Linked DNA regions of Homo sapiens. The protein of the gene in region 2 interacts with the protein of the main gene of each other region in a biochemical or structural test. Each region holds a gene or a part of one and is shown on either strand. Other genes may lie near its edges.

Region 1 (7,000 bases), on a different chromosome or scaffold from region 2:
GGGTGCATTTGGGGTGTGTGGGAAGGAGAGGGAAAGAAAGATGGACAGTGGGACTCTCCCCTAGCAGGGTCTGGTGTTCCGTAGGCTAGAGTGCCCCTCTGCTCTGCGAGTGCTGGGCGGGAGGGGAGTTGGTGAGAGCTGGAGACCCCCAGGAAGGGCTGGCAGAAGCCTTTCCTTTTGGGTGCTGTCAGGTCCGCATGTCTTGGCGTGTTGACCTTCACAGCTTCTGGCGAGGGGAGGAATGATCTGATGCGGGTGGGGAGGGTTAGAGGAGGCCTCAGGCCTAAGGTGGTGCAGGGGGCCCCCTAGGGGCTGGGCAGTGCCAAGGCATAAAAGCCTTCCCTGGTCCCTGGTGGCATTTGAAGGTGCCCAGGTGAGAGGGGCTTGGCACCTCCTCACCCTGGGAGGGAGAAGAAACCAGGGAACAGGTAGGAGTGGGAGACAGGTGAGGCTTTGGAAATCTATTGAGGCTCTGGAGAGATTTGTGTAGAGAGGAAAATGTGGTTCTCCCCCAGGGTCTCCTCCTGGGTTTTTACCCTCTAAGCAACCTGTGGGCATGCTGGGTTATTCCTAAGGACTAGAAGAGCTTGGATGGGGGAGGGTGGTTGGTGCCCTTCGGTCCTCGGCACCCCCCTCCGTCTCCAACACCAGCTCACCCTGGTATTTGTCATGTCAGCAGGAGAAGGTCACCATGTTGTTTTTCTCGCCCCTAGTCCTTCCTTCCTGCCCCAGTCCAAATTTGTCCTCCTATTTGACCTTAATACTTACCATGGCTTTGGACCAGGGAACTAGGGGGATAGTGAGAGCAGGGAGAGGGAAGTGTGGGGAAGGTACAGGGGACCTCGACAGTGAAGCATTCTGGGGTTTTCCTCCTGCATTTCGAGCTCCCCAGCCCCCAACATCTGGTTAGTCTTTAACTTCCTCGGGTTCATAACCATAGCAGTCCAGGAGTGGTGGGCATATTCTGTGCCCGTGGGGACCCCCGGTTGTGTCCTGTTCGACTCAGAAGACTTGGAGAAGCCAGAGGCTGTTGGTGGGAGGGAAGTGAGGAGGGAGGAGGGGCTGGGTGGCTGGGCCTGTGCACCCCAGCCCCTGCCCATGCCCATGCCTTGCTCTCTTTCTGTCCTCAGTGGTCCCAGGCTGCACCCATGGCAGAAGGAGGAGGGCAGAATCATCACGAAGGTGAGTCCCCCTGGCTGTTGGATGGGGTTCCCTGTCCTCTCAGGGGATGGGTGGATGGCCTAATTCCTTTTTCTTCAGAACTGTGGGGAGGAAGGGGAAGGGGCACAGGAATATAAGGATCAAGAAAGAAAGAGCTGGGCACCACGAGGTTCACCCTCAGTTTCGTGAGGACTCTCCGCTGTTCAGGTCTCTGCTAGAAGTAGGACTTGTTGCCTTTTTCTTCTGCTCTTTCCAGTAAAATTTTATTTGGAGAAGGAGTCGTGCGCACAGAGCAGGAAGACAGTGTTCAGGGATCCTAGGTGTTGGGGGAAGTGTCCCTTGTTTCCCCTAGCTCCCAGGGGAGAGTGGACATTTAGTGTCATTTCCTATATAGACATGTCCCATTTGTGGGAACTGTGACCCTTCCTGTGTGAGCTGGAGGCACAGAGGGCTCAGCCTAATGGGATCTCTCCTCCCTTCCCTGGTTTGCATTCCTTTGGGGGTGGAGAAAACCCCATTTGACTATGTTCGGGTGCTGTGAACTTCCCTCCCAGGCCAGCAGAGGGCTGGCTGTAGCTCCCAGGCGCCCCGCCCCCCTGCCCAACCCCGAGTCCGCCTGCCTTTTGTTCCGTTGTGGTTTGGATCCTCCCATTTCTCTGGGGACACCCTGGCTCTCCCCACCACTGACTGTGGCCTGTGCTCTCCACCTCTGGGGAGGGAAGGCCCTGGGGTCTTCCTTCCCGCGAGTTTCCCTGACCTAAATCTGGCGTGGCTGGGTAGTGGCCAGCAGTGGTGATGCCCAGCCTGTTCTGCCTCCTCCTTCCCCACCCCAGGAGCCCTTTCCTTGGCCTAGGACCTGGCTTCTCAGCCACTGACCGGCCCCCTGCTTCCAGTGCGCCACTTACCCCTTCCAGCTTCCCAGTGGTCTCTGGTCTGGGAGAGGCAGGACAAAGGTCTTTGTTTGCTGGAGAAAAGGTTGTCTGCGATAAATAAGGAAAACCACGAAAGCCTGGTTGTTGGAGTGTACGTGTGTGCTCCCCCAGGCAGTGGAGGCCAGCCCTCCTTGGAGGGGCGGCTGCCTGATGAAGGATGCGGGTGAGGTTCCCCGCCTCCACCTCCCATGGGACTTGGGGATTCATTCCAAGGGGAAGCTTTTTGGGGGAATTCCTACCCCAGGTCTTTTTACCCTCAGTTACCAACCCCTTGCCCAGGCCAGACCTTCCTGCTATCCCCTCCTGGGCCACAAGCCTGGCCCTCCTCTGTCCCAATTGTGATGAAGGGGCAGTTCAAAACTTCTTGATTAGTCATCTTCTCCCCTATCGACTTGGCTTTAAAAAATGACCTTTTCAGACTTCTAGTCTCGTTCACTCTTTTTGATGATGCTTTGCCGTAACCCTTCGTGGGTAGAGAAGGATTCTGTGCCCATTGGTGGTCTGGATAAAAGAAATAGAGACCTCACAGGAAGCAGTGGACTGGCCTGTTTCCCCACTGTTCTTTCTGTTTTCACACCTGTGGCCTTCTCCCCACCTTCTTCCCAATCAACCTATTGTGTACATAGCCCCCCTCATTGTCCTTTATTCTTCTGGAAAGCAGACCTTGGAGGGAGGAGTGAGGGGGAGGCTCAGCTGTGGTCTCTGGGGGGTGGGGGTTGGGAGCTGGGGTGGAAGTCCACGAAGCATACACTTAAGATGCTTTGGTGAAGTTCTAAACTTCATATTACCCAGGCTGAAAAAAGAGCACTTGTTCCTAGGGCTGGAAATGGAAGCCAAAACACCACCTTTTTCAGCCTGTTTCAGCATCTTTAGAGATCAGCCCAACCCACTTACACAGTTGAGCAGAGTTGGAGGCCTAGAGAGGGGAGGGACTGGCCCAAGGTCATACCAACTCATGGCCAGAGCCTGGGCCTCCTCACTGGCCAGGTGTTATTTCTTCCCTCTGGGTAGGGAACCTATTTCAGGGACAGGATTGCTATGTGGTAGTGGTGGTGGGGTGCGATAGGCGTGGCAGGCTGGGCCACAATTTGGAGTAGTCATGCCAGAGTCCTGCATTTATTTATTCTCAAGGGCCCCGCCTCTGTGGCCCAGAATTACCCCTTCATGCTCCAGTGCACCCCAGGCTTCGTGGCCAGCCTGGGAAACTGTCTCTACCCTGGTCTCCCTTCAGATCAGCTTCTAGAAATGTTTCGTGGCTACAGTGGCAGCACTGTTTTTTCCATGATGCAAGCAGTTTGCCCTCTTGGGCGGGGTTATCAGTGGCTGGCAGGGCTGGCACAGCGTGTCCGCCCACTGCCACCTGTGGGTTCCAGGAGGGCCCAGCCCCTGTGCTGATGCCCACCACCTTCTCAGCTCATGTCTGGGGAAGAGGACTGGCAGGGGGAAAGGTGCCTCCTCCTGAAAGGTGCCTCCTCTGTTTTTGCCTAATATAGGCTTGGGAACACTTTGATGTCAGCTAATTCTGACTCCTTTACTTACTAGCTGTGCGGCCTTGGGGCAACTTACTTAGCCTCTTTGAGCCTCCTGTTCCCCATCTGTAAAATGGAATCTCAATAGTGTCTAATAGTACCATGTGGAGAAACTTGTGTGAAATGATAGCTGTGGACTACTGTACACAGTACTCAGGATGTAGTAAGTGCTCAATAAACAGCTGTTGGTATGGTTGACGTTATGGTAGTGGTTGTGGGGAGGACGTAGGAAACTGGAGACTAGCTTGGCAAAGCTGGCTCTTCCTCCTTTTAGGGAAAGCTTAGAGCATCCCCATGGGGTATACCCATACTCAGACTGTCCTCTGGCATCGAGGTTGGCCCAGGATTCAGTTCAGCTGTCACAGTGAGGTGGCGGGATCAGATGTGGCAGGCCATGTCCCTTGGAACTTGAGTACATCGTGTGATCTCTGGAATGAAAACAGGCCTTCACCAGTGTTGATGGTGGAAAGCTTAGGGAAGTGCTTCAAACACAGTAGGAGGGACTTACGTTAGATTTTGGAAGGACTTGCCTGATTCGGAAGCTCCAAAGAGTGGCATTACAGAGCTGGGTGGAGAGAGGGGCTAGCCATCTTTTGTGTCGCCCACCGGGCTCATGTGTCATCGCCTCTCATGCAGTGGTGAAGTTCATGGATGTCTATCAGCGCAGCTACTGCCATCCAATCGAGACCCTGGTGGACATCTTCCAGGAGTACCCTGATGAGATCGAGTACATCTTCAAGCCATCCTGTGTGCCCCTGATGCGATGCGGGGGCTGCTGCAATGACGAGGGCCTGGAGTGTGTGCCCACTGAGGAGTCCAACATCACCATGCAGGTGGGCATCTTTGGGAAGTGGGGCAAGGGGGGGATAGGGAGGGGGGTAACACTTTGGGAACAGGTGGTCCCAGGTCGTTTCCTGGCTAGATTTGCCTTGTCTGGCTCCTGCCCCTGAGTTGCACAGGGGAGGTATGGTGGGGTCTTGCCTTCTGTGGAGAAGATGCTTCATTCCCAGCCCAGGTTCCCAGCAAGCCCCAACCATCTCCTTCTCCCTGATGGTTGCCCATGGGCTCAGGAGGGGACAGATGGATGCCTGTGTCAGGAGCCCCTCTCTCCCTCTCTTGGAGAGAGTCCTGAGTGCCCCCCCTTCTTGGGGGCTTTGTTTGGGAAGCTGGATGAGCCTGGTCCATGGAGAGTTTAAAAAGTCTTTTGGTGTTACCTGGTAATGGGGCACATCTCAGCCCAGATAGGGTGGGAGGGAGCTGTGAAACACAGGGAGGGGGTTGCTTTCGGGTATCTACTAGGAGTCAGGGTGAAGCCTAGAGAGGATGAAAGAAGGGGAGGGGATGGGGAGTGGTAAGAACCTAGGATTTGAATTCCCAGCCTGGCCAACCCTTGCAGCCATGTCTTGGCCTCAAGTGGAACAAGGGCTCCTTGAGGCCAGCAGGGTTGGGGGAGTTGGGGTGGGCCTGAGCCTCTTTCCTGCTAGAGCTCTTGGTCCTCCCTGCCTCCACCACCCATCCCTGCTCTGCAGAACCCCTGGGTGCTGAGTGGCAGGAGCCCCAGGGTTGTCCCATCTGGGTATGGCTGGCTGGGTCACTAACCTCTGTGATCTGCTTCCTTCCTTTCCAGATTATGCGGATCAAACCTCACCAAGGCCAGCACATAGGAGAGATGAGCTTCCTACAGCACAACAAATGTGAATGCAGGTGAGGATGTAGTCACGGATTCATTATCAGCAAGTGGCTGCAGGGTGCCTGATCTGTGCCAGGGTTAAGCATGCTGTACTTTTTGGCCCCCGTCCAGCTTCCCGCTATGTGACCTTTGGCATTTTACTTCAATGTGCCTCAGTTTCTACATCTGTAAAATGGGCACAATAGTAGTATACTTCATAGCATTGTTATAATGATTAAACAAGTTATATATGAAAAGATTAAAACAGTGTTGCTCCATAATAAATGCTGTTTTTACTGTGATTATTATTGTTGTTATCCCTATCATTATCATCACCATCTTAACCCTTCCCTGTTTTGCTCTTTTCTCTCTCCCTACCCATTGCAGACCAAAGAAAGATAGAGCAAGACAAGAAAAGTAAGTGGCCCTGACTTTAGCACTTCTCCCTCTCCATGGCCGGTTGTCTTGGTTTGGGGCTCTTGGCTACCTCTGTTGGGGGCTCCCATAGCCTCCCTGGGTCAGGGACTTGGTCTTGTGGGGGACTTGTGGTGGCAGCAACAATGGGATGGAGCCAACTCCAGGATGATGGCTCTAGGGCTAGTGAGAAAACATAGCCAGGAGCCTGGCACTTCCTTTGGAAGGGACAATGCCTTCTGGGTCTCCAGATCATTCCTGACCAGGACTTGCTGTTTCGGTGTGTCAGGGGGCACTGTGGACACTGGCTCACTGGCTTGCTCTAGGACACCCACAGTGGGGAGAGGGAGTGGGTGGCAGAGAGGCCAGCTTTTGTGTGTCAGAGGAAATGGCCTCTTTTGGTGGCTGCTGTGACGGTGCAGTTGGATGCGAGGCCGGCTGGAGGGTGGTTTCTCAGTGCATGCCCTCCTGTAGGCGGCAGGCGGCAGACACACAGCCCTCTTGGCCAGGGAGAAAAAGTTGAATGTTGGTCATTTTCAGAGGCTTGTGAGTGCTCCGTGTTAAGGGGCAGGTAGGATGGGGTGGGGGACAAGGTCTGGCGGCAGTAACCCTTCAAGACAGGGTGGGCGGCTGGCATCAGCAAGAGCTTGCAGGGAAAGAGAGACTGAGAGAGAGCACCTGTGCCCTGCCCTTTCCCCCACACCATCTTGTCTGCCTCCAGTGCTGTGCGGACATTGAAGCCCCCACCAGGCCTCAACCCCTTGCCTCTTCCCTCAGCTCCCAGCTTCCAGAGCGAGGGGATGCGGAAACCTTCCTTCCACCCTTTGGTGCTTTCTCCTAAGGGGGACAGACTTGCCCTCTCTGGTCCCTTCTCCCCCTCCTTTCTTCCCTGTGACAGACATCCTGAGGTGTGTTCTCTTGGGCTTGGCAGGCATGGAGAGCTCTGGTTCTCTTGAAGGGGACAGGCTACAGCCTGCCCCCCTTCCTGTTTCCCCAAATGACTGCTCTGCCATGGGGAGAGTAGGGGGCTCGCCTGGGCTCGGAAGAGTGTCTGGTGAGATGGTGTAGCAGGCTTTGACAGGCTGGGGAGAGAACTCCCTGCCAAGTACCGCCCAAGCCTCTCCTCCCCAGACCTCCTTAACTCCCACCCCATCCTGCTGCCTGCCCAGGGCTCCAGGACACCCAGCCCTGCCTCCCAGTCCAGGTCGTGCTGAGCAGGCTGGTGTTGCTCTTGGTTCCGTGCCAGCTCCCAAGGTAGCCGCTTCCCCCACACCGGGATTCCCAGAGGTTCTGTC
Region 2 (7,512 bases):
CTATGTACAGAAACACACACACTCATAAATGCACACACACTCATAAACGCACACACATCAAACACTGATTCCATCTGTGCTCATACCCGTCTTTAAGAAACACAGGAACCAGTTGGGTGACCACTTAAGAGTACCTGGTCACCAGGGGCAAACCTCAAAGTTCGGAATATCCAGTCATGGATAACAGAAAATGACAGTGATGGTAACAGAGAAATTCATATTTGATATTTTGGCATCATTTTACACAATCTCTTCCTTACTTGCGATGGTACAGCTTATTCTCCCTCGCCCAGCCCCGATGCAGGTACAGTCCCAGATCATGGAGTCTTTAGGACGCTCATAAGTGTCACCCACTCGGTAAGTGTTCCCAGTGTACTTGTCAAAGCAAGTCTCTTCAGCTGAGGGGAAAAGGAAAGTCCATGTGAGCCTCACTTAGGTACAAGCTTTTCTAGTTCACTAATCCCCTCTAAAGGAAAACCCACTTCTCTATTCCACAAGTAACATGGTACACCTCAAAGAATAAAATGAAGTGAGAGATACAGATTTTTATCCTAAGCTCTAATAAGGCCATGGTTTTTGACCTTGACATATTGTCAAATTTTCTGTAAATTATTCATATTGTAGAAAAATCTCAGGCTCTTAGGAAAAGGCCATATAAAGTACTAACTTATGACAGAGCTAGATTTGTGAAGGGTTTCACATTCCAATCTCTGACTCAGAAAGTCAAAGCAAGGTTCACATAAAAAGCAAACGATTGGCCGGGCACAGTGGCTCACGCCTGTAATCCCAGCACTTTGGGAGGCTGAGGCGGGTGGATCACCTGAGGTCAGGAATTCGAGACCACCCTGACCAATACGGTGAAACCCCGTCTCTACTAAAAATATGAAAATTAGCTGGGTGTGGTGGCATGTGCCTGTAGTCCCAGCTACTCAGGAGGCTGAGGCAGGAGAATTGCTTGAACCCTGGAGGCAGAGGTTGCAGTGAGCTGAGATAGTGCTACTGCACTCCAGCCTGGTGACAGAGCAAGACTCTGTCTCAAAAACAAAACAAAACAAAAACAAACAAACAATTCGAAGATCCCCACCTCCCACAAGGCCTTGACAGTTGTTAATCCTATGATTTCCATTTTCCCCTGATCAGTGCTTCTCTGACAGAGTTGCTATAATTTATGAGAAAAATATCATTGGTCCTAAAGGAATGAGAACTTTGAAGTGGCTAATGGTTTTGTGTTAACTGCCGCTGACAAATCATTTTACGATGTAAGTCCCCAAAGTGTTTTCTGGCTCATAAACTAACAGTTTAAGATTTGAGACTGCTTTCTAATAAATTAAAATTTTATAAGCAATTTTTTTTGTCGGAGGACACACAAAATCTTTCATTTTTCTCATCAAAAACTTTGGGAGAGTAAAGCAAAAAGAAGACTCTAGGAACTAATTTGGGAAAGATTCGTTTCTTTGTTTTAAAGGTAAAAGCATGTGAAAAGCAAATATAAGCAGTTTTTAAACTTAAGAGGAAATGACAGGTAATTCTATTAGAAAAATGGTGTATGTATTTTTACTTACTAATGCAAAGTTTAACAATTACCACTTCATGTATTAAAAGATACTAACTATGGGGCTTGTTGTCACTTACCTTCAGGTTTACTCTCGCAGTTAAAACCTCGGCTTCCTCCATAACAAGTACAAACCAACGCATTGCCTAGGTAGGTCCGCTCCCACTGTTGATTTATCTGATAGTGTTTTCCATTGTCATAACAACCGGCTGCAAATAATTGAAGGAAAACGTTACATTTGCATTTCTCCTTTTCCCAAAATTATGGAATTTTCTTCATGTGAATATTGACGTACATATTTTTTTCCTTTTAACTTTGCTAAAAGTTATATACAATGATGTCATTTCCATCTGGCCAGGGGTCTACATAAAAAAGTTGGAAACATTTTGGAAGGCAGACAATTGAAGTCACATTTTTAAAACATGCAAGGAACTTAAATATTCTTTTGGAGTAATAGTCAAAAAGGACAACTTTAAGCAGCTTTCTCAAAGCAAAAGGAGGGTGTGTCTTTGAAAAACGGAAAGAATTCCAACCTCTGTTCTTGGTGAAGTATCCTGAGCGGCCCTAAAGAGGTCTGAACCAATTACATCTCTTCCAAGTTAGTTAGAAACAAGACAGCTATTTCAATACCCCCTTTCCACCCCCATGTTGAAAATATTTGACCAATTATTTAACAGAAGGAAATAAGTAGCAGTAAGGACCACACTAATCCCAGACGGAAAATTTATAGACATGCATCATTTTTCTCTTTAAAGGCAAGTTTTGGTTAATTCCTAGAAGGACAATCTGAACGTGCAGAATTTATTAGAACACGGGAAAGTCGCAGAGTCCTCGTCCTCCAATGCACGGTCTTATCATCCCAGGCCCTCAGAACCAGCGTGCTCAAAACTCGGTCCTTTTGTGTGCACAGCTGGTTTCTCTCAGTAAAGCGCGCACACACTCGCACACACGCGCGCGCACAAAACTTCAGCCCCAACTTTGGTCGGCTTTAGGGTCCCATCCCTGAGGCAGCCTGTTTCAGCCCGCGGTCAGTACTCACGCTTGCTTTGACTGACAGCCACCGGGGACTGGGGCTGAACCATTTGCTGAGCCTGCCTCTTGCTCTTCGAGGCTCCCGTGGAGGGCACCGCTGTCCCCAGGCACTGGACGGCCAGCAGCAGCAGCCCGGGCCCCGGACCCCTAAGCATGTTGAGACGGTGGGGGAGAGACGCCCGCACCGGGAGGCAAGTTGCCACCAAGTTTGCTTCCCTTCGCAACCTGCGGGAAAAATCCCTTCTAATGCCTCCCGGGGGTTGTCGCCTCCAAGAAGGTGGGGGCCAGAGGGTGGGGAAGGGGACGGGTGGAGGGACAGAAGGGATGCAGAGGACCAGAGAAGTTGTGGCTGCAGGTCCCCTCTTCCCGCTCGCGCCTGGGGTTCCCTCTCCTCCCCCTGTGCAGCACAGCCGGCGCGGGCGTCCGAGCGCCGGGAGCCGGGGCTTATATGGGACGGTCCCCTCCCGCCCCTCTGGAGGCCCGGGGCGCGGGGGAGGAGAGACCCGCCGGGCTGTCCCCGCCCCGCCCCACCCCACCCGCCCGCCCGCCCGCCGGCCGCCGCAGCCGACCGCGCGCCGATTGGCCCGGGCTCCGGGTGACGTCACGGGGGACTGTGGGTTCGCAGCGAACAAAAGAGATGCTGATGGCCCGCCAGGACTGGGGCAAGACAACTTTTTTTCGGTTTCCTTTGCGGTCATCAAACTTTTTAGGGGATGGGGGAAGGGATGGGAAGCGGCTGGGAGGAAAGGGAGTGGCTGGACTTGTGTGAAGCGAAGGGGTTGCAAGACGCTCCCCCTTCCCTTTTCTTTTTTATTGGGGGTGGTGGTAGTGTTTGAGGACATTGCGTCACCTCTCTTCGGGGTGGAGGGGGGGAATCTCTGCTTATAGGAGTGTATTTTGTGAGGAAGAAAACCCATAAAATATCCACGACCTTGCAGCTGTTAAGAATCCAGACTTTTCAGTCCCAGGGCGGGGCTGCCTTTCCCCCCATCCCGCTCCCTTTCTTTGGACTAAAGGGTACTGACTCGGGACTCCCTTATTTTGTCTTCACAGCTCCCTGTTCGGACTTCTTCCCTTCTCAGCGCTGTGCCTGTCTGGCTCTGAGAAAGGGCCAGCGGGCGAACGGGGAGCAAAGGGGAACAGAGACCTTTAATGAGCTTCTACTAAGTACCGGGAGTTCCGCGGGGCGCTTTGCAGATCCCGGGGAAGTTCAGAGAATGAAGTTTTCTTTTGCAAGGACAAAGTAACAGTTTACTTTTTTACACATGCAGGAAAGCCTTCCTTTCCTGGGGATGGGACGCCCGTTTCCACTGAAAGTGAAATCACTGTGAACAACCTGAAAATTGGAAAGTTGGACCAGCTGTGGGGAGAGAAAGGTCTTCGTGTCCTTTCCCACGTTCACCGTGCCAGTTACACACAAAGCAGAGATTTTTTTGCTTGAATCATTAAAAGCCGGGTGGGTGGGGGGCACCCTATGTACTGTCTTGCCCTCCTTCGGCCCCTTTCTCACATTTATTTGCCATTTTCTTTTTGCTGACAAGTTCCATTACAGAATGCCCCCTCCATCCCCCGCCGCCAGATTTTTTATATTTCAATTGTTATTTACTCCAAGAGTGTGGAAAGTTCTCCTTTAAGATTCCCCCGCCTTGAACTCTAAACTCAGAGTGGAAAGGGAATCTGAAAAGTCTCTCATTTAGCAACACATCACATCAGTCCTTTTTGTCAGATAAACACAGGCACAATTGCTTTTAAAGATCTTCAGAAGGAGGAGTCCACCACTTCCACAGTAGATCCAGAGAGACCCGAACTGAATGCTTTGCCTTCTCCTTGTGTTAGGAGTTCAGAGGTTCCATTTGCTTTAAAACACAAGAAGCTACTAATAAAATATATTTATTTCGGCAAGGTACCTATTTTCTCCAAAAGTTTCACCTTCAGTAATTGCCACAGGAGTAATTAGAACTCTGTGTTCTATAAAATGCCTGACACATTAAAGACACAAAATTAGCATTTGTTTTTATTCATGCAAGGATTTAAAACCAAACCAAAACAAAGCAAAACACCCAGCAAATATCAGTTTCCTACAAATAGTGTAAAAAAACCTCTTGAGGAATCTTTGTGACCCACACTCCAAATTGAAAGAGTGCCATGGATTTCCCCAAATTTAGAATCCTGTCTGGGTTAGAGGATTTTTTTGGAATTTCTCATCACTTGACAAAACAGTTTTCTCTTTTCAAATATAAAAGAGCTCCTTGTAAAATGCTTGGTAAATTTCTGGGAAGCCGAGTGTTTCTTCCAGAGGGAAGGATACCTGGAAATCCGGATGTAAGCAAGATAAACCTGTAGCTAAAGCTTTCTTAAAATTCATTGATTCTGGGGGAAGGAAATAAGTGATTAGAAAAGTATTTGGTCAACCAAAACCATGATAGTTTGATATATTTACTGCACTGAAAATACACTAGAATCATATGCATAGTGGAGCTTGAAGTGGAAAGCCCACCTTACATTTTGGAAGAAACTTTTATATTTCAATCCCATAGATATCTAATTTATTTAAGGAAACAGGATATCTCTGTCTCATAAGAAAAAAAATAACATCTGACTGATTTTTATAGGAATGCTTGGGAGTTTACTCTTTTACTTGAAAGGTTTTTTTTTTTTTTGCCTTTTTTTTTAAACTTTAGAAACAGAGGCGTTTCTTAGTTAAGATAACAGGGCTTACTACAGTATTCTTTAATTATCAAGGTCCCTTGTAACTCTAAGTCTGTTATCTCTAATTGGAGAGATAATTAAATCTTAAAGACCACTCTGACTCTAATTCAACCAACGTGTGTGGTGTCCAGGATCGTTGGACTTCCTTAAGAATTCTATTTTATCCAGGTGGGTTCTTCCTCAGTAAATTGTATTCTCCTATTGGTAGGAAATACTCTTGGATTTCTTTCTTTCTTTCTTTTTCTTTCTTTCTTTCTTTCTTTCTTTCTTTCTTTCTTTCTTTCTTTTTCCTTCTTTCCTTCTTTCTTTCTAAAACTGTATTCAGAGAGAGAAATGTGACAAAAAAAGGGAAATCAATAGAGACAGAAAGTAGATTCATGGGTACCCAAGTTTATGGGCTGGGAACAGGAATTAACTGTAAAAGGGCACAGGGAATCTTATTGAGGTGATGGAAATCTGTGTTCTAAAACTACATTGCAGTGATGACTGTACAATTTGGTAAAAGCTTCAAAATTCTGGGGATTATACACAAAATGAGTGAATTTTACGGTATGTAAATTATGCTTCAATAAAGTTGTTTTTTTCAAAAGTTGATTTTAAAAATTAGTATTTGTTCTTTTTTACTCTTAACCATCTCCTGATTTTGGTTTCAAAGACTTGCTCTCAGGTAGCAGCAACATACACAAGGCGTCCTCATTTCTTCATTTTTCTGAGAGGAAGTTTGCCTTGAATATAGTAGTGGATTTCTTCTACACCAGTAACTCCTTCTGAAACCTACTATTTGTGTGAAGGCATATATGTGGTAGAGACAGAACAAATCTTCATTTAGGACTGTGCCTTGTTTCTTCTTGGAATTGCCATAGTGATAGAATTTTCCCAGAGCCTCAGGCAATTTAAACTTTTTGTAACAAAAAGAAGCACATATATTTTCGGGAACTAGGGGGGTGTGGGTGGCGGGGGGCAATGGTATTGGGAAATTTTATTATTCCAGAAGGTTAAGGAGGAGCATGAGCAATTATGGAAATCTGAATTAAATTGATTTCATTTGTTTTGAAGATTAGCAATGGAGACATTTGATTAAGCACAAAAAATAATTGATCAGATCCAGTCATTTAGAAGGACTGAAATAAAAACAGGCTAGGTGTGGTGATTCATTCCTGTAATCCCAGCACTTTGGGAGGCCAGTGTGGAAGGGTCACTTAAGCCCAGGAGTTCAAGTCCAGCCTGGGCAATATAGTGAGACACTCTTAATAATAATGATAATAATAACCAGATATGGTGACAGGCACCTCTCGTCCCAGCTATTCAGGAGTCTGACATGAGTCCTGGGGGATGACTGGAGCCCAGAAGATCGAGAGATCAAAGCTGCAGGGAGCTGTGATCACACCACTGCACTCCAGACCCAGCCTAGATGACAGAGCAAGATCCTGTCTCAAAAATTTAACATTTAACATTGAAATGTTAAATGTTAAAGGTTACATTTAAATATGTCACATTTAGATGTTACATTTCAAATGTTACATTTAGGTGTAACATTTAATTGATGGGCTGTTTTTCCTGAAACCTTTGGCTTTTATCCTGTTATTAATTTCTTCCAGTTCTGCTAGAGAGGAGGCCATTGACTCTGGAGAGCTCGAACTTTCATTTCATCTTCTTCTATAGGTAGATTAGAGGGAGATAAATTAGGGTAGTTTTTTTTTTTTCTTATTTTGAATTTTTTTTTTTTTTTTGGCATAAAATGCTTCCCTTCTTCCTTGAAAATGGCCACGTTTACAAAAATGTTACTCATTAACCACAGGTGTGAGAAGTTAAAAATAAACTTCCCTGCGGGCAGCCCTCGTAAGTAGAATGTCTGAAAAGTTTGTCAAGAATTGACAGGGTGCCTGCAACCAGGGAGAAAATACTGGATAAGGGCTTTAAATTATGCCATGAAAGCTAACCAGTTTTCGCTTAATAGGCATTTTGTTTACATTTTAAGTGACTTTATTTTTTAATCAGCACTTTTTAAAAGCCTTAATCTATGCTTTTTGCTTCTTAACAGGAATATTCTTTTCTCATTAGAGTGATGTAACTCCCAACAGGCATGGCAAAGGTGTTTAACTTATCCAGTAAAATGGGAACTAACTACTGTGTAGCTGGAACATGTAACCAAAACTGTCTTGGAGAACATTTCATCTTTCCAAGCAAAGTAGCAGCTTCTTGTAAAAATTTTAATTTTG
Region 3 (7,853 bases), on a different chromosome or scaffold from region 2:
TCCTCCTTCCCAGCCATCATCACCTTTGTGAGCTCTCTCCCTCTCTGCTCAGGCTTATGCCGAGGGTCTCAGCGTTCTATGCTTCATCCTCTTCTCTTGTCCTCTCCTTGCCCCAGGACACCCCTGATCCCATGTGCTTCCTTCATTTTATTTCCTGTCTCTGTTCTTGCCTCCAAATCTCTCTTTAGACCCATTCACCTGTGTCATCTCTGCCAGCAGGCACCACAGGCCCTTCAGGCTCACTAGGTCCAAAACTGAACTCATCATCCTCCATACAGGCTTCCAAAACCTACCCCTCAGCTCACACCAGGTCCATTCTCCTTCCTTAATGTGTCTCCTCCTCTCCAGCCTCACCCCCGCTTCCTTGGCCCACACCACCATCATCTCTCGCTTGGATTATCACAGCAGTGTCACTTGGTCCTGTCTTGATCTCCAGGTGACCATACCCGTGACAGCCCAAGATAATTTATCCCTCCTTTACTTACAGAATGAAGTTCAACCCTGGTTCCCAACCCAGCAGGACTTCCAAGCCCTCCATCTGGCCCTGATCTGGCTTCTCTCTGTCCTCCCTTCCTCCTCTCTGATGGGCTCCCGGTGCCCCACCACCCCCTTAGCCTGTACTGCTATCACTCCTGTGGTTCTCTCAGCCCAAAATGCAGCCTCCCACTGCTGTGCTGTAAGCTATTCTGTCTGTTCACTCCTCTCCACCCAGCCAGGGCTGATAAAAACCTAGACAAGGTTCAAAAACCCAGATCCAAGGTCACCACCTTCACAAAGCTTTTCCTATTCCATTCCTCTCTCCAACCACGGGAGAATGGACCATTCCTCCCTGTGTGTCTTTATTGTGGAGACATGTGTCAGAGCATCGACTCTCTATCTTTAGTTCATCTATTGAGATATTGATCTCTCTTCTTGAGGCCAGGGGTATTTTCTGGGACATGGTTAGATCTCAATAAACATTGATACTGGAGGGATGAAATGAAGGAAGGATGGATAGAAGGCTATAAGGATGGGTGGATGGATAAATGGATGGATGGATGGATGGATGGATGGATGGATGGATAGATGGATGGATGGAAAAATGGATAGATGGATGGGTGGATGGATGAATGGATGGATGGATGGATGGATGGATGGATGAATGGATGAATATATGGGTGGATGGATGGAAGGAAGGAAGGAAGGAAGGAAGGAAGGAAGGAAGGAAGGAAGGATGGTAGAAGAAAGGTAGTACCAGTATGCTTTAGCTCATGCAGGCAAACAGATGATGGGCAGAGGGAAGCATGGTGGCTGATTACAGGAGGATCATAGCAGATGTTTAAGGCAAGATTGACAGCCCCACAAAGACTGAGAAGAGAAGATAAGAAAAATGGGAAAGTTATTAAGACACAAGACCTAGATCAGGAGCTAGAAGCTGGATCCCAGAACAAGGCAAGAGCCTAATGACTCGAGTAGCCAACTCATCCCAGTTTGCCAAGGTCTTTGCCAGTTTTAGCACTGAATATCCCACACCATCGGAAATTACTCAGTCCCAGCAAATTGGAATGGTTGGTCACCCTACTAGTAATTAAGACCAGTGCCCCACTTCAGAGCAGAAGCATCAGCCAGGCCCTGAGTGACATCTTGTAGGCTCTTGAACTGGTCTCACTCAATCCCCATGAGGCCCAATACCATGGAACAGAGGGCAGGGAGGCTGAGGGCCAAGCAGAGGAGCACCTGTGCTCAGCAGGGCAAGGCATCACAGGGGCCAACATTGGTTTCCCTGCCCTTCTCCCAGAAACCACCTCCCCACTTTGATCCTTTCCCATGCCCTGCTAGGCTCTAGGACACCAAATTCTCATATTCTAGCCACTGGCCCTCCCTAGGCAGTCACCCTGGGTGTTATGGACTGAATTGCTTCTCCCGCAAATTCTTATGTTGAAGTTTTAGCCCTCAGTGTGACTGTAGAGATTGGGCTTTTAGGGAGGTAATTAAAGTTAAATAAGGTTATAAGGGTGGCACTCTAATCTGATAAGATTGGTGCCCTTTTAAGAAGAGGAAGAGTAATCAGAGAGCTCGCTCTCTTCCTCTGCCCAATCCCTCTCTTGGGGGGTGTGTGTGTGTGTATGTGTGTGTGTGTGTGTGTGTGTCCAGTGTGGGCTCACAGGGAAGAGGTCATGGGCGAACAGAGTGAAGGCAACCATCTATAAGTGCCAGAGAGCCCTCACCAGAGACCAACCCTGACGGCACCTTGACCTTGGATTTCCAGCGTCCAGAACTGTAAGAAAATACATTTCTATTGTTTAAGACATCCAGTGTGTGTTTAAGCCAGGCCAGTGTGAGGTATTTTGTTACAGCAGCCAGAGAAGACTGATACACTGGGGTGCCATGCCCCCGAGACTCCTTCCAAATCTCTCCTTTCAAAACGCACCACCCTCAGTCCTGATTCCTTCAGAGCTCTTTCTGCATGGCAGTGGGAGTCATGAGTTACCTCAGACTTTCCCCCAAATTCTCAAGACATTCCTTAAGATGTAAGCTTGGGAAACGGCATGTGATGTCTTTCCCTCGTGGGTGGTCAGAGCACAGACAGCACACACAGGCTGGAGACGGCCCACAGGAAAGGTGGGCTAACCACCTTTCCCAAAGTAGTTTCATCTGGAACCCATTTGGGCGGTGTTACACTAGTTTCTGATGGCTGCTCTAAGAAGTTATCACAAACAGTGGCTCAGACAACACAAAATTCTTCTTTCATGGTTGAAGAGGCCAGAGGCCTCACTGGGCTAGAATGAGGATATTGGCAGGGCTCCACTCTTTCTGGAGGCTCTAGGGGAGGATCCATTCCTTTCCCTCTCCAGCTTCTAGAAGCTTCCTCACTCCTTGGCACCTGGCTCCGACATCACATTGACTTTTCCCTTCCTGCTTCTACCATCACATCACCTTCTTCTGACTCCAATCTCCTGCCTCTTTCTTGCAAGGATCCTTGTGATTGTAATTAGGACCCAGCTGGATAATCCATGACAATCTCTTCAAGATCCTTAACTTAATCACATCTGCAAAGTCCCTTTTGTCATAGAACGATAACATTCACAGGTTCTGGGTATTAGGACACGGATAACTTCGGGGTTCCATTACTCACCCATAACTGGTATGCAGTGCTGATTTCCATCCTGTAGGTACGGTTTAGGGATCTCTAGGTCAATGAGATAATGGACTCTTGCTCATGTTACATGGCATAATGGGAAGAAAGCCAAACCTAGAAAAAGAGGGACTCAGGTTCCCTTGTTAGAGCCTCTTCTTACTAACTGTGGGATTAGGGGCTGATTCCCTGACCTGCTGTGTTCTGTCTTCTCTCCAATTCAATGGGAATGAACTGTGAGGGCACTGAGCAAAAACTAAGGTCTCAATACCTAGTAGTAGTGGGACTTGCCTCTGGATACCCAGTAGTGATCCTGCCGCCTGTTTCTGGATATCCTACAGTAGCAATCCCACCTGTTTCTGGATATCCTACAGTAGTGATCCTGCCTGTTTCTGGATATCCTACAGTAGCAATCCCGCCTGTTTCTGGATATCCTACAGTAGTGATCCTGCCTGCTTCTGGATACCCAGAAGTGATCATGCCTGGTTCTAGATACCCAGTAGTGATTGTGTTTCCTCTAGATACCCAGTAGGTATTGTGCTTGCTTCTAGAGATGTAGTAGTAGCTGGACTTAGCTCTAGATACCCAGTGCTCATCTCTAGACTGGGCTGAGATCAGTGTCTCCCTTGAAGGGTTATTGTAAGGATGAAAAAAGATAATGCGTTTAAAGCACTTGGTGTAGTAGGTGGTCTTTTTAAAAGTGTGAATAAATACTAGTTCTTATTATTTCTGTGGATATCCAACAGCCACATAATTGGGCCCCAAAGCCATGAAGAAGGAAGAGGAAATGTCTTAAAGGTTGTCGATGGACAGTGTTTGCTGAACATCAAAATCACTTTCCAGGTATTACCTCTGATTTGCTCTACCAACTCCACACCCCACCTGCAGCCACATAACCTTCCATGATCACGGCCATGCACAACACACCATGTCCCCCAGGCAAGGGGACCTTAGAAACATAACCAGGCTTGAGACAGCACTCTGCACCGGTGTCTTGGAAATGCTCTTAAGAGTGTATGGCTGAGTTAGGGAACCAGGATTTCAAAGTAGAAAGGGAGAATCTACCCAAGCCCATAGAAATCCTGAATCCACTCCTTTCTCAGCAACAAGCACTGGCCTGGGAGTCAGCCACTTATGCACCAACCCCACTCTGCCCCTAATTAAATGCATGACTTTGAAAATTCCCCTCATTCTTCTGAGCCCCAATTCAGTGATTGGTGCAATCACAGGCTTGGCTACAGTGACCCATTCATTGCAGGCATGGTGAGTCTCTCAATCCCTCTCATTTCCACTAGAATCTAACTGTTGGGATCTATGACCCAGTCAGCATAGCAGGCCTGTGGGGAGCTCTCAGGTTCAAGCATATGCCCCCCCTAATCTACAAGAAATTAGCTGCAGAAAACCAAGGAATAGAACCTGGAAAAAGAGAGGGTTTGCTAGAGCTGTCCCTTTCCCTGTCTCTGGAATGCCAACAATAGGGAGGCTCTTTGGTCTTGTCTCTCAGGAGTGCCCATGCCATTCCAGGAAAATGATGGCCCAGCTGGTGGTGTAAGGCTTGGGGGGCAGCGAGTGGGCATCGTGGTGAAAGCCTCGGGATCAGGGAGCTGCGTCTGCAGGCAGGCCTGCTGGCCGGAAACCTGCCAGGAAAGGAAGGGGCTGTCCCGGGGCGGGGCCAGGGAGGGGTGGAGACAGGGCCGGCTGTGGTCAGTGACAAATGCTGGCTGCAATCCAGCCAGCCCTCTGCCCTTTCTGAGCCCGAGGGACTGCCACCTCCACTGTGTGCACACTCAGCTACGGGACACAGTAAGTACCGATGCCGCAAAGGGAGGTCCCCAGGGCTTGAGGGCATGTGAGGCGAGGAGAGGATGGACTCTAGAGTTTTGGGGTTTGGGGTCTGCAAAGCTCTGAAGGAGTCTCATCTCTGCAGTTTCAGGTATCCAAGGCAGCAGAGGTGAGTGGGTCCCCCGAGCTCTGTGACCTTATGCTCCACACTAACTCTGGCAGAGCCTCCGTTTCCTCATAGGTAAGATGGAAATAATTACACCCTCTGGATGGTGTGACTGAAGATTAAATACAGCGGGTGCTCTCACTCAGCACATCTGGCCATGTCTGCAGACACATTTGGTTGCCACAACTGGAAGGGGGGTGGGGGTTAGTGACATCTAGAGGCCAGCGATGCTGCTGATGATCCCACAATGCCCAGGACAAGATCACAAAGCATCATCCTGTTCAAAAGGTCAACAGGATCAAGGTTGAGAGACCCTGAAATAAGGCCATGGGGACAAAATGTCGGCTGGATAGGAGGTGCTCAGTAAGTGGCAGCTTCTGTTGTTTTCTGTGCCTGGAGTCTTGGGCCTTTAGAAATCAGGAACAATGATCCAATATTATCGGCTTCCGTGAGATAAGGGCATCTTGCCTGGAGGCTGCCACCCAGGCCGGTCATGGCAGCTGCTCATGAAGGACAGTAACAATTTGGCAGTTTGTTAAATGAACAAAATGTAGAAATAAAGTAAGCAGAATTTTTAGTTTTTCTGAAGGTAGGGCTTTTGGCCAGATATGCAGCAATAAAAGAGCAAACTGCTTCCTTGGGCCAGTGTCCTTGCTCATAGATCAGGAAACCGAAGCATGAAGAATACAGGCGGCAGATGCCTGAAGGTAACGGACGTGTTCATGGTGCTGACGGTGATGATAAGTGACAGATGTAGACTCATCTCCAAACTTGTCAGGTTATAGACATTAAATATGTGCAACTTTATGAATAGCAGTCATGTCTCAATCAAGTGGTTTTAATAAAGAAATAATAGGAAGCCAGAGCTGAGAGACAGGGAGGGAGTTGTTCAAGGTCACCTGGCAAGTGAGCTCCGGGGCGGGGAGAGCTCAGCTCTGGGTGGCCAGCCTGGCTTTTTCCACTGCTCAGTGTCCAGCTTGCAGTCTAATGTCTCTGAATTACAGAGAAGGAGACTGGTCAGTTCATTCATTCATTCATTCTACAAAGGTTTATGGAGCATCTCTCCTGACTGCAAGCTCTTGAAGGTGAGAGCAGCACAAATGAGGGTCCCATGGAGAGAGAGGCCGGAATGAAAAATGTCAATGACAAATGCATATATAAAGGCACATGTGTAATTGAAAGAGCTTTGAGAGAAAGAGTCAAGGGACTGTTCCAGAGAATAGCCATGGAAGGGGAAAAGGTCCAGTGTGATAAGGTATTGCAAAGAAGTGACATTTAAGCAAAAGCCTGCAGCCTATGCAGAAGTTGGCCTCAGTGAGAAAGGTTGGGGGAGGGTTCCAGTAGAGAGGGAAGGTATGCAAAGGCCCAGAGTTAGGACAGAACTTGCTGTGTTTGAGAAACTGGGAAAAGAAGAGTGAGCCTGGGGGTATCACGTGATCCAGGGCAGAGCAGGTCCAGGCCAGGTGCAGCCAGGTCACAGCAGCCCTAGTGGGTTAGAGCACAAATCAAAGTTTAGCATTTATCTGAAACACAGGAGTTGGCCATGAGTTTCTTAGGCGAGGAAGCGCTGTGACCATATTTATGATTGAAGGAGATTCTTTTATATGCTGTATATAGAAAGCCTTTCAGGGCAAAGAAAGGAAGCTACTGGGGTAGCCCTGGGGGAGATGAAGGGAGCTTCCACTGGGGGCAGTAAGAAAGCCAGGGAAAGGCGGCAGCTTTAAGACCTGTTTTGGAGATAGAACGGACAAGCTTTGCTGATGGGCTGGAGTGGAACAGGAAGTCAAGATTACTTCTTCTGGGAAGTTCTGTTCCTGGGTCTTTAGGATCTAGAGGAAGCTGTGACTTTGTCTCTCATCTCTGCCTGGGCTCCAAGCCTCACATCCCTTTTTGTAATTAGAAGATATTGGACAGACCGTCCTCACTAACACAATTCCCACAGCTGAGTCCAGGGTAGAACTGGGCAGGACTTCACTGCCCAACACGGGAAATATCAGTCAGCAGATTTGGGTTTCGGGGATGGTGGTGGGCCAGCGGGAAGACTGACCAGGGCCTACCCATCACATCCCCACCACCTCCCACCTCAATTCACCTTGGCCTGAGATGACAGGTGAACATGACTGATCCTCTCTCTTCCCTCTGCAGAAACACTAAAGCCAGGGACCAGGAGAGGGGCAGCCCAACCAAGCTTTCAAAGCACTCAGTAGAGGCTGGTCTGGGGGATGGGAGGCTCCCAGGGCTTCACCTGTCTCTGTCAAAGCCATGTATTTCCACCAGAGGCCCAAGAGTGCGATGGCAAACCCTGGATTTGAAACTAAGAAACGTAAAACAAGCACTGAGGACTCCACTGCCTCTTGAGTGACCTCTCTGACCCTCTGTTTCTTCTGCACTGTTAGGATAATGATACTAACTCCATGTTGTTGTAGAGAAGTATAAATGAGCTAATACAGGTGAACCGCCTGGGGATACCAGGAGGTGAGGTCGAGGAGGAACGAGGTATCACTCCTCAGAGCCACTCAGAGACAGGCTGTGCACGAGTCAGAGGAACCTGGATTTTAATTCCGGTTCCATCACTCAGTAGCTGAAACAAGCTATTCCACTTCACTTAGCCTCAGTCTATTCAATCTGTAAAATAGAGTGAGTTTACTTTTGGAAAACTCTGTAAAATAGAGAGCTTACTTTTGGTGAAGGTTAAACATAGTAATATTTATGGAGTGTCTAGTATGTCTTTAATAATTAGTGGTTTTACTGAAAAGTAGAGAGAGTTGGCCCAGAGGGAGCAAGATTTCT

Evidence for each region.
Region 1: the proteins of FN1 (region 2) and VEGFA form a complex in vitro, tested with the Homo sapiens proteins (one study listed by BioGRID).
Region 3: the proteins of FN1 (region 2) and SERPINA5 form a complex in vitro, tested with the Homo sapiens proteins (one study listed by IntAct).

Annotation. Positions count from the first base shown.
Region 1 is NC_000006.12:43,773,211-43,780,210, forward strand, and holds part of VEGFA (vascular endothelial growth factor A, long form), read left to right. Parts: intron 1-1,130; coding exon 1,131-1,182; intron 1,183-4,258; coding exon 4,259-4,455; intron 4,456-5,249; coding exon 5,250-5,326; intron 5,327-5,678; coding exon 5,679-5,708; intron 5,709-7,000.
Region 2 is NC_000002.12:215,433,064-215,440,575, forward strand, and holds the start of FN1 (fibronectin isoform 1 precursor), read right to left. Parts: upstream 3,006-7,512; 5' UTR 2,740-3,005; coding exon 2,592-2,739; intron 1,762-2,591; coding exon 1,633-1,761; intron 399-1,632; coding exon 261-398; intron 1-260. UniProt on the Homo sapiens protein: Fibronectins bind cell surfaces and various compounds including collagen, fibrin, heparin, DNA, and actin. Fibronectins are involved in cell adhesion, cell motility, opsonization, wound healing, and maintenance of cell shape.
Region 3 is NC_000014.9:94,576,573-94,584,425, forward strand, and holds the start of SERPINA5 (plasma serine protease inhibitor preproprotein), read left to right. Parts: upstream 1-4,853; 5' UTR 4,854-4,918; intron 4,919-5,042; 5' UTR 5,043-5,138; intron 5,139-7,853. UniProt on the Homo sapiens protein: Heparin-dependent serine protease inhibitor acting in body fluids and secretions. Inactivates serine proteases by binding irreversibly to their serine activation site. Involved in the regulation of intravascular and extravascular proteolytic activities.